2 linked regions of the Homo sapiens genome follow. The protein of the gene in region 2 purifies or fractionates together with the protein of the main gene of each other region. This does not show direct contact. Each region holds a gene or a part of one and is shown on either strand. Other genes may lie near its edges. The genes, in order: AKR1B1 and ZNF253.

Region 1 (3,810 bases), on a different chromosome or scaffold from region 2:
GCCACCTGACCATCTGAGTAACCAGAACAGCTGTGGGGAGCCTGGCTACTGAAGAGGAGGAGGAAGTGCCTACATGGCATCGCGCTTCACTGGCACCCAGGTAGGCTGCATGGACACGTATCCCCCAACTTTCACTATCCTGCTATGATCACAGAGCTGAGCAATAAACATGTGCAGCGGGCTGTTGAATGAACAGAGCACATTCCTTTGGAGAGCTGGGGTAGAAACAAATGAAAAGAAAAACCCCCCAGGGCCATAGCAGCTGCAGACATCTGTGTTTTGACATCAGCTATTTTCAACAGGCTTTGGGGAAGAAAGGGGCCCAGTTGAACAAGCCCGTTACCAGAGCCTGTTAGCATGGAGCTCACTCTCCACCTCAGAGGGAGCAGCGAGGCAGGGTGGGGATGCTCATCGAAGGTGTGGGTTAAGAGGGGACGACCCTCAGAGGACCTGGCGACCTCTTATTTGACTGGAGGACCTCAGAAGCTGCTCTTGCAGCCTTCCCCACTCTGCACGGTTGAAGGAACAGAGAATCTCAATTTCCAGAAAGAATGCCTTACCACAGGCCCTGAGTGGTGTCCGGGCACAACCACCACTGATGACAGCAGGGAGAGCAGAGGACATCCCTACCCCAGAAAGAACAACTGGGGCCCAGGCAGGAAACTGCCCAGGACACACTGAACTTTCTCCAGGCTTGATGGCGCCTTGATTGATTTTTCTCTGAGGAGCTGCTGAGGGCACACTCCGCAGGCTCAGCCTAGCCACGCACTGCCTGCCATGCAACTGGTGCGGGGACAGGAACATGACTCAATCCAGGCCATAAGACTCAATCTTTGCACTTGAATTGGAACCCCTGAGTCCAGCCCCGGTTCTGCTGGGGTCACTGAGCTGGGAGAATGTCAGCCTGGAGCTGCTGCAGGAAAGTGGAGGGAGGCCAAATCCTGGTGACAACATTTACAACCCTGAATCTCAAACACCTAATGTCAGCGGCTGTTGTTTGGGGAAGTCAATCAATCCCCACCCCAAACACACTTTTTTTTTTCCTGCTTAAGATTAAAGTGGTTTTTCAGTTCTTTGGAACCAAAAGAGCACAGACTAGGATAATCAAGCTTGCGTTGGCACGACATGAAAAAAAAGTTGTGAGAGGTTTTTCTAGAAAAGTAAAAGACAGCAATGACTGCAAGAGGTCACGAAGAAGCTGCTGATCATTCCTTGGATATGTGCCATTCGCTGGAGACATGTGTGCTGGGAGGCTGATCAAAGGTGCTGGAGGGAAAAAGTCACCTCTGCAATGAAAATGTACGAGGATCCACAACCACATTCTATGTTAATGATCTCAATGTACAGCCCTTCCCTGAGAGAAACTAATTTGCCTTATGAAAAATGAAGCAGCCAACTTAAGCTATGGTGAGAAACCATTCACTAAACTTGGGAATGCCAACACAGGATGACAACATCTCCCCATTCCATGTCAACAAAGAGAAAATGCAAACAGAAGGAGGGGTCCAGATTGACTTCTAAAAAGAAGGTAAACTATGAAAACATGCTGGGTGGCATCCAGGCACAGCCATTACTGATGAGAGCTGTAGAAATGCAGTATATGAAACACTCCAATTACAGCTCAATCATACAAATCCTACATGTTTCTAACCCGATCCTGCCACTAATCTGTGTGCCCTTGATGGGCAAAACCATGCATGCCCATTCCTCCCAGAACTTCTGGCTCTGCAAAGCTCTACGTTGGGCAGTGACTTGAAATGCTCTGGGCTGATGGCACCAAGTGATGGCAGTGAGAAGCCTCTGCCCTTGAGTCCTCCACCACCTCCTTCAAGACAGCGGTCCTAGTTCCTCCTTTGATAACACCGGCTGGCTAATACCAACTCTGAGACACTGATAACTAAAATCAGTGTCTCCCTCCTACACAGATACAACACTCCTTTTAAAACCTAGTCTTCTTCCCTTTTGCTTACAGGTCTTGCTAGTTACTTCAAGATACCCCTCCCTCTCTTCCCTCTGCAAGTCAAAAAGCAAGCCACAGTGCTAAACAGGAAGACGGTCACAGGACAGTGTTTATGGTAAAACCAAAGTATCTCAGAGATTGGATATTTTGCAATATTAACCACGGGGATCTCTGGGAACAGGGAACTCTTCATTTTTGAAATGTTCTCTAGTTAGCAGGTGTTACTACTGAAATCAAAGGATAAGGGGAGGGGGCAAAGGAAACTTCACTTTGGGTAAAGAAACGGTCCTGAGTAGGAAGCATGAGAATGCTGTGCTGATAATCCTGGAGCAAGGAACAGGAAACGATCACTCAGAATCAGGTTTGGCAGCAGAAATTAACTTCCTCCTGTTCTGTTTTAATCAATTTGTCCCAAATTCTAAGACACTGCTGTTTCCAACTAGTTGAGATGTGCATGGACCAGGACTGACCCTGTAGGGGCAGGGCTTATTTAAATGTCTTTGGTCTTGAAGAGGAAGAGATGGGGGCTTTAGAGACACCAGGGAAGTGAACAGTAAATCTGGCTCCTGTGTTACCTCCATGCCCACAGCGCCTCAACCCTCACCCCATCCAAGGATCTTGGGCCATCACAAGCTTACCCCACTTGGGGAAGGTGGAGCAAGTCTTTCCTGGCACATTTTCTTTTACCTCATGCATTCTTAAAGTGGGTGCTATTGTCCCCAAAGAGACAAAAATTAGTTCTCTGGGGCAAAAAAACCCCCCTCAGCTTATAGAACAGCTTGTGACCCTCTAGAAGGCTACTGGCCATAAGCAGAAGTACAATATTATCTCTGATATTACAATTTTATTTTGGGGCAAATTAGGGGAAAAAAAAGTCTCACAAGGCTCCTAGGTGGGAGGGAGGTAGTGATCATGGCAAAAGATGGAGAAACATAGTTGTACCTTCAGCCCTAGGAGTATTCTGTGAGCATACATAGGAGACTTACAATGACTTTTACCTCCAACAATTTTTCAACTAGATTAAAAACACTATCAGTAACAAGACACTGGTGGGCACCAGACATCATCTCTGTTTTAAAAGCTTCCTGGCTTTACAATGCTGTGATGGGTTTTTGTTGTTGTTGTTGTTTCTGAGACCGAGTTTTTTTTTGCTCTTGTCGCCTAGGCTGGAGTGCAGTGGCACAATCTCAGATCATGGCAACCTCTACCTTCTGGATTCAAGTGATTCTCCTGCCTCAGCCTCCCAAGCAGCTGGGATTACAGGCACCCACCACCATGCCGGGCTAATTTTTGTATTTTTAGTAGAGAGGGGGTTTCACCATGTTGGCCAGCTGGTCTCGAACTCCTGACCTCAGGTGATCCACCCGCCTTGGCCTTCCAAAGTGCTGGGATTACAGGTGTAATTGTTTACTATCCAATGTAGAAGGCAAGACTGCCAGAAAGAAACCCTGTCCAAGCCACATGGGTCTGGGGCAGAGATGGTCTCCCCATCTGCCTGAAACCCTCACCTGAGAAGAGAATGGAGTTTGAGGACCTTCAAGAGTAGAGACTACCAGAGCCCTGCTGAGGGTCTGAAAGGTACAACACAGCCGCTACGGCATGGGAAGACCCAGGAGAATAAGGAACTGCACCTGCCTGCAGGGCCTCCTCCAGCTGTCACAAAGACAGGCAAAGGATCACATCTTCTGTCGAGCATCTGTGAAAGAATACATACACACATACAAGGGAAAGGTTTTTTTGTTTGGTTGTTTTTTTAGATGGAGTCTTGCTCCATCGCCCAGGCTGGAGTGCAGTGGCGGGACCTCGGCTCACTGCAACCTCCACATCTGGGGTTCAAGCGATTTTCCTGC
Region 2 (4,260 bases):
AAAAAAAGCAGAGAAAAGCATCTACATATAACCTAAATTCCTTAAGAAAAGAGAGAATATCAAAATATTTTTTAAGCTTTTTATTTATTTATTATACTTTAAAGTTCTGGGGTACATGTGCATAACGTGCAGGTTTGTTACATAGGTATACACGTGCCATGAAGGTTTGCTGCACCCATCAAACCATTATTTACACTAGGTATTTCTCCTAATGCTGTCCCTCCCCTAGCCCCCCAATCCCCTTTTTTGGAACTTTTTAAAGAGTTTTTGAACTCTTGGACATCAGAATTTTACACACTGTATGCACTTGAAAAAATGCTTATGGGGGAAAAAGCAGAAGAGAGAAAGATATTATAAAAAAAAGTTCATGAGTGCACAAGACCAATGCAACAGAATAGAGAGCCCAGAAATAATGCCACCCTCCTACCATCATCAGATTTTTGGCAAAGCTGATAAGAGAAATGTGGAAAGAATTCTCCATTTAATAAATGGTGCTGGAATAACTAGCTAGCACTATGTAGAAGACTGAAAGTGGACCCCTTCATTACACAATATACAAAATCAACTCAAGATTAATTAAAGACTTAAATGAAAAACTTAAAATTGTAAGAAACCTTGCAAGATAACCTAGGAAGTACCATTCTAGACACAGAAACTGGCAAACACTTCATGATGAAGCTACCAAAAGCAATTGCAACAAAAGCAAAAATTGACAATGGGACCTATTTGAACTAAAGAGCTTCTTCACAGCAAAGGAAACTATTAACAGAGTAAACAGACAACCTACAGAATAAAAAAAATTTGCAAACTTTGCCTCTGACAAAAGTCTAATATCCAGAATTTATTAAGAACTTAAACAAGTTTACAAGAAAAAAAAAATCTCATTAAAAAATAGGCCAAAAAAACATGAATAGATGCTTTTCAAAAGAACATATACATGTGGCTAGCAAGCATATGAAAAAAAAAAAGCTCATCACTAATCATTAGAGAAATTAAGAGAAACCACAATGAGATACCACATCACACCAGTCAGAATGGCTATTTTTAAAAAGTCAAAAAATAACAGATGCTGGCAAGGTTGCAGAGAAAAGGGAATGCTTATACTCTACCTCATAATTGGGTATATACCCAAAGAAATATAAATTATTGTATTATAAAGATACATTCATATGTATGTTCATTGCAGCACTATTCACAATAGCAAAGACATGGACAGGCCCTATCAGTGGTAGACTGGATAAAGAAAACACGGTATGGTCAGATGCGGTGGCTCATGCCTGTAATCCCAGCACTCTGGGAGGCTGAGGCAGGTGGATTGCCTGAGCTTAGAAGTTTAAGACCAACCTGGGCAACATTGCAAAATCCTGTCTCCACAGAAAATACAAAGAGAAAAATTGGCCAGGCGTGGTAACACCAGCGTGTAGATCAAGCTACGTGAAAGGATGAGGTAGGAGAGAATTGCTTGAGCCAGGGAGGTTGAGGCTAAATAAGGCTGCATCACTCCACAGCACTCTAGCCTGGGCAATAAGTGACACTCTGTCTCCAAAAATAAAATAAAATAAAAGATTTAGTAAAAACAAAATATGGTACATAAATATCATGGAATACTCTCTGGCCATTTAAAAATAAATGATCATGTCCTTTGCAATAACATCAATAAAGCTGTAGACCATTATTTCAGAAAACTAATGCAGAAACAGAAAACCAGACATTCGCCATCACACCCAGCTAATTTTTGTACTTTTAGTAGAGATGGGGTTTCCCCATTTTGGCCAGGCTGGTCTTCAACTCCTGACCTCAAGTGATCCATCCACCTCGACCTCCTGAAGTGTTGTTATTACAGGCGTGAGCCACCGCGCCCGGCCCCATAAATTTTTAATAGGAGAAAAGGGAAACTGTGAACCCTGACAGATATAATAGATTCCTCTTCAAGGGCCTAACTTTCTTGTTCCTTGTTCTTAGGACCAACTTTTTTGTACCTCTTTGTACCTAGACACCCGCTCCGTAAACAACCCAAACCGCCTGTTCCAATCTGCGACCCGAACCCCTTCCTTATTTGGAAAGTAGCCAATCGGGTCAGCCTAGATTGTGAGGTCAGACCCCGGCCAATGGGGGAAGGACACAGAGGCAATAACGGCGTTTAGGGTTAAAAACCCCTTTCAAACTGGGAGGCCGAGGCGGGCGGATCAACTGAGTTCGGGAGTTCAAAACCAGCCTGACCAACATGGTGAAACGGCATGTCTACTAAAAATACAAAATCAGCCGGGTGTGGTGACGCATGCCTGTAACCCCAGCTACTCGGGAGGCTGAGGCAGGAGAATCACTTGAACCCGGGAGACGGAGGTTGCAGTGAGCCGAGATCGCGCCATTGTACTTTAGCCTGGGCCACAAGAGCAAAACTCCGCCTCAAAAAAAAAAAAAACCTTCCTTCCTTTCTTCTGTGTGCTCTTGCGATCAGGTCGGACGCGAGCAGCACTCTTCTTCAGAAGTAAATATGCCTTCCTGTGAAATTTTCTAAGTGCTGGGTAGTTTTTTGTTTTGTGTTGTTTTGCGGCACCAAGCGCTTGTTTCTAACAACCTCACGGACCAAAGCTCTTCCCATTCATGAACCCGCAGGGAACCGAGTCAGGATTCTCCCCTGACGACCCTCCCGTGGTCCTTGCATGATCTGGGAGAGACGCGGTGCTGCGGGTGCAGAGCTGCTGAAAGAGGGCTCCAGGCCAGGGCACAATCACTGTGCCGGGCCCCGGATGTCACCGCAGCCGCCATCTTATGGCTGAAGGGGACTGAGGCCGAGCTGGGCAGGGAGAACTCCGGCGGCAGATTGTGGAGCTGACTGTGAGGAAGCAGAGTCCCGCCAGAGCCACTTCCCACCGTTCCAAACAGCCTCTCCCCTCTCTCGGGACGTTGGACCCGGCACTCACCATTTCTAGGCTTCCAGGGGTCCCGGGGTTTAGCTGTGGCTCTCCCAATACTTGCAGGTCACACGGCCACAGAGGACGGGCCTCTATAAGCACAGGACACAGAACACTGAGGATAAACCTGGAGCTCCCGCTGCAGCGAGAAACAAAGGCCCCCAGAAACCATGTGGTTCGCTCCAGCTGCGTGCCTGATTGGACGGTTTCCGGCCCAGCGTCCCTCATTGGATAATGCCTAAGGCCCCGCCTCCCCAGCCGCTGAGTGACAGATGTGATCAGATACTGGGCTGAGTGAAGAAAGAGTGACAGCCTAGGCTGCAGCCTTTTCTTTCTTTCTTTCTTTCTTTCTTTCTTTCTTTCTTTCTTTCTTTCTTTCTTTCTTTCTTTCTTTCTTTCTTTCTTTCTTTCTTTCTTTCTTTCTTTCTTTCTTTCTTTCCTTTCTTTCTTTCTTTCTTTTTCTTTCTTTCTTTCTTTCTTTCTTTTCTTTCTTTTTTCCCCCCACCGAGACGGAGTTTCCCTCTTGTTGCCCAGGCTAGAGTGCAATGGCACGATGTTGGCTCACCGCAACCTGCACCTCCCGGGTTCAAGCGATTCTCCTACCTCAGCCTCCCATGTAGCTGGGATTACAGGCATGCCTCACCACGCCCGTCTAATTTTTTGTACTTTTAGTAGAGACAGGGTTTCTCCGTGTTGGTCAGGCTGGTCTCGAGCTCCCGATCTCAGGTGATCCGCCCGCCTCGGCCTCCCAAAGTGCTGGGATTACAAGCGTGAGCCACCGCGCCTAGCCTAGCTGGAGCCTTTTCAAACGGCTTCCTCCCTGAGCTGAGCATCCCATCCCAGAGCATGGGAAAATTCTATCTCATATTCTCTCTCTTTTTGAATGTATTCAAAAGGTGAACAGAAGTACTTTGCTGTCATATTAATAATACATGAAATGTTTGTTCAAGAGAAAGTCAACTTTTACTTTGGTAATAGTGTATTATCAATACTAAAGCTAATTTTAATAAGACCTTGTAAAGCCAGGTGCGGTGGCTCAGGCCTGTAATCCCAGTACTTTGGGAGGCTGAGGAGGGCAGATCACTGGGTCAGGAAATCGAGACCATCCTGGCTAACACGGTGAAACTCTGTCTCTACTAAAAATACAAAAAATTACCCGGGCGTGGTGGCATGCACCTGTGGTCCCAGCTACTCAGGAGGCTGAGGCAGGAGAATGGCTTGAACCCAGGAGGCAGAGGTTGCGGTGAGCCAAGATCGCACCACTGCACTCAAGCCTGGGTGACAAAGTGAGACTGCGTCTCCAAAAATGAATAAATACATAAATAAAACCTTGTAAATAAACAAA

Evidence for each region.
Region 1: the proteins of ZNF253 (region 2) and AKR1B1 purify together in Homo sapiens (co-immunoprecipitation; one large-scale study listed by IntAct). This does not show direct contact.

What each region holds. Positions count from the first base shown.
Region 1 is NC_000007.14:134,452,504-134,456,313, forward strand, and holds part of AKR1B1 (aldo-keto reductase family 1 member B1), read right to left. Parts: intron 1-3,810. UniProt on the Homo sapiens protein: Catalyzes the NADPH-dependent reduction of a wide variety of carbonyl-containing compounds to their corresponding alcohols.
Region 2 is NC_000019.10:19,864,664-19,868,923, reverse strand, and holds the start of ZNF253 (zinc finger protein 253), read right to left. Parts: upstream 3,043-4,260; 5' UTR 2,928-3,042; coding exon 2,925-2,927; intron 2,489-2,924; exon of another isoform or gene 1-2,488. UniProt on the Homo sapiens protein: May function as a transcription factor. Seem to have a transcriptional repression activity.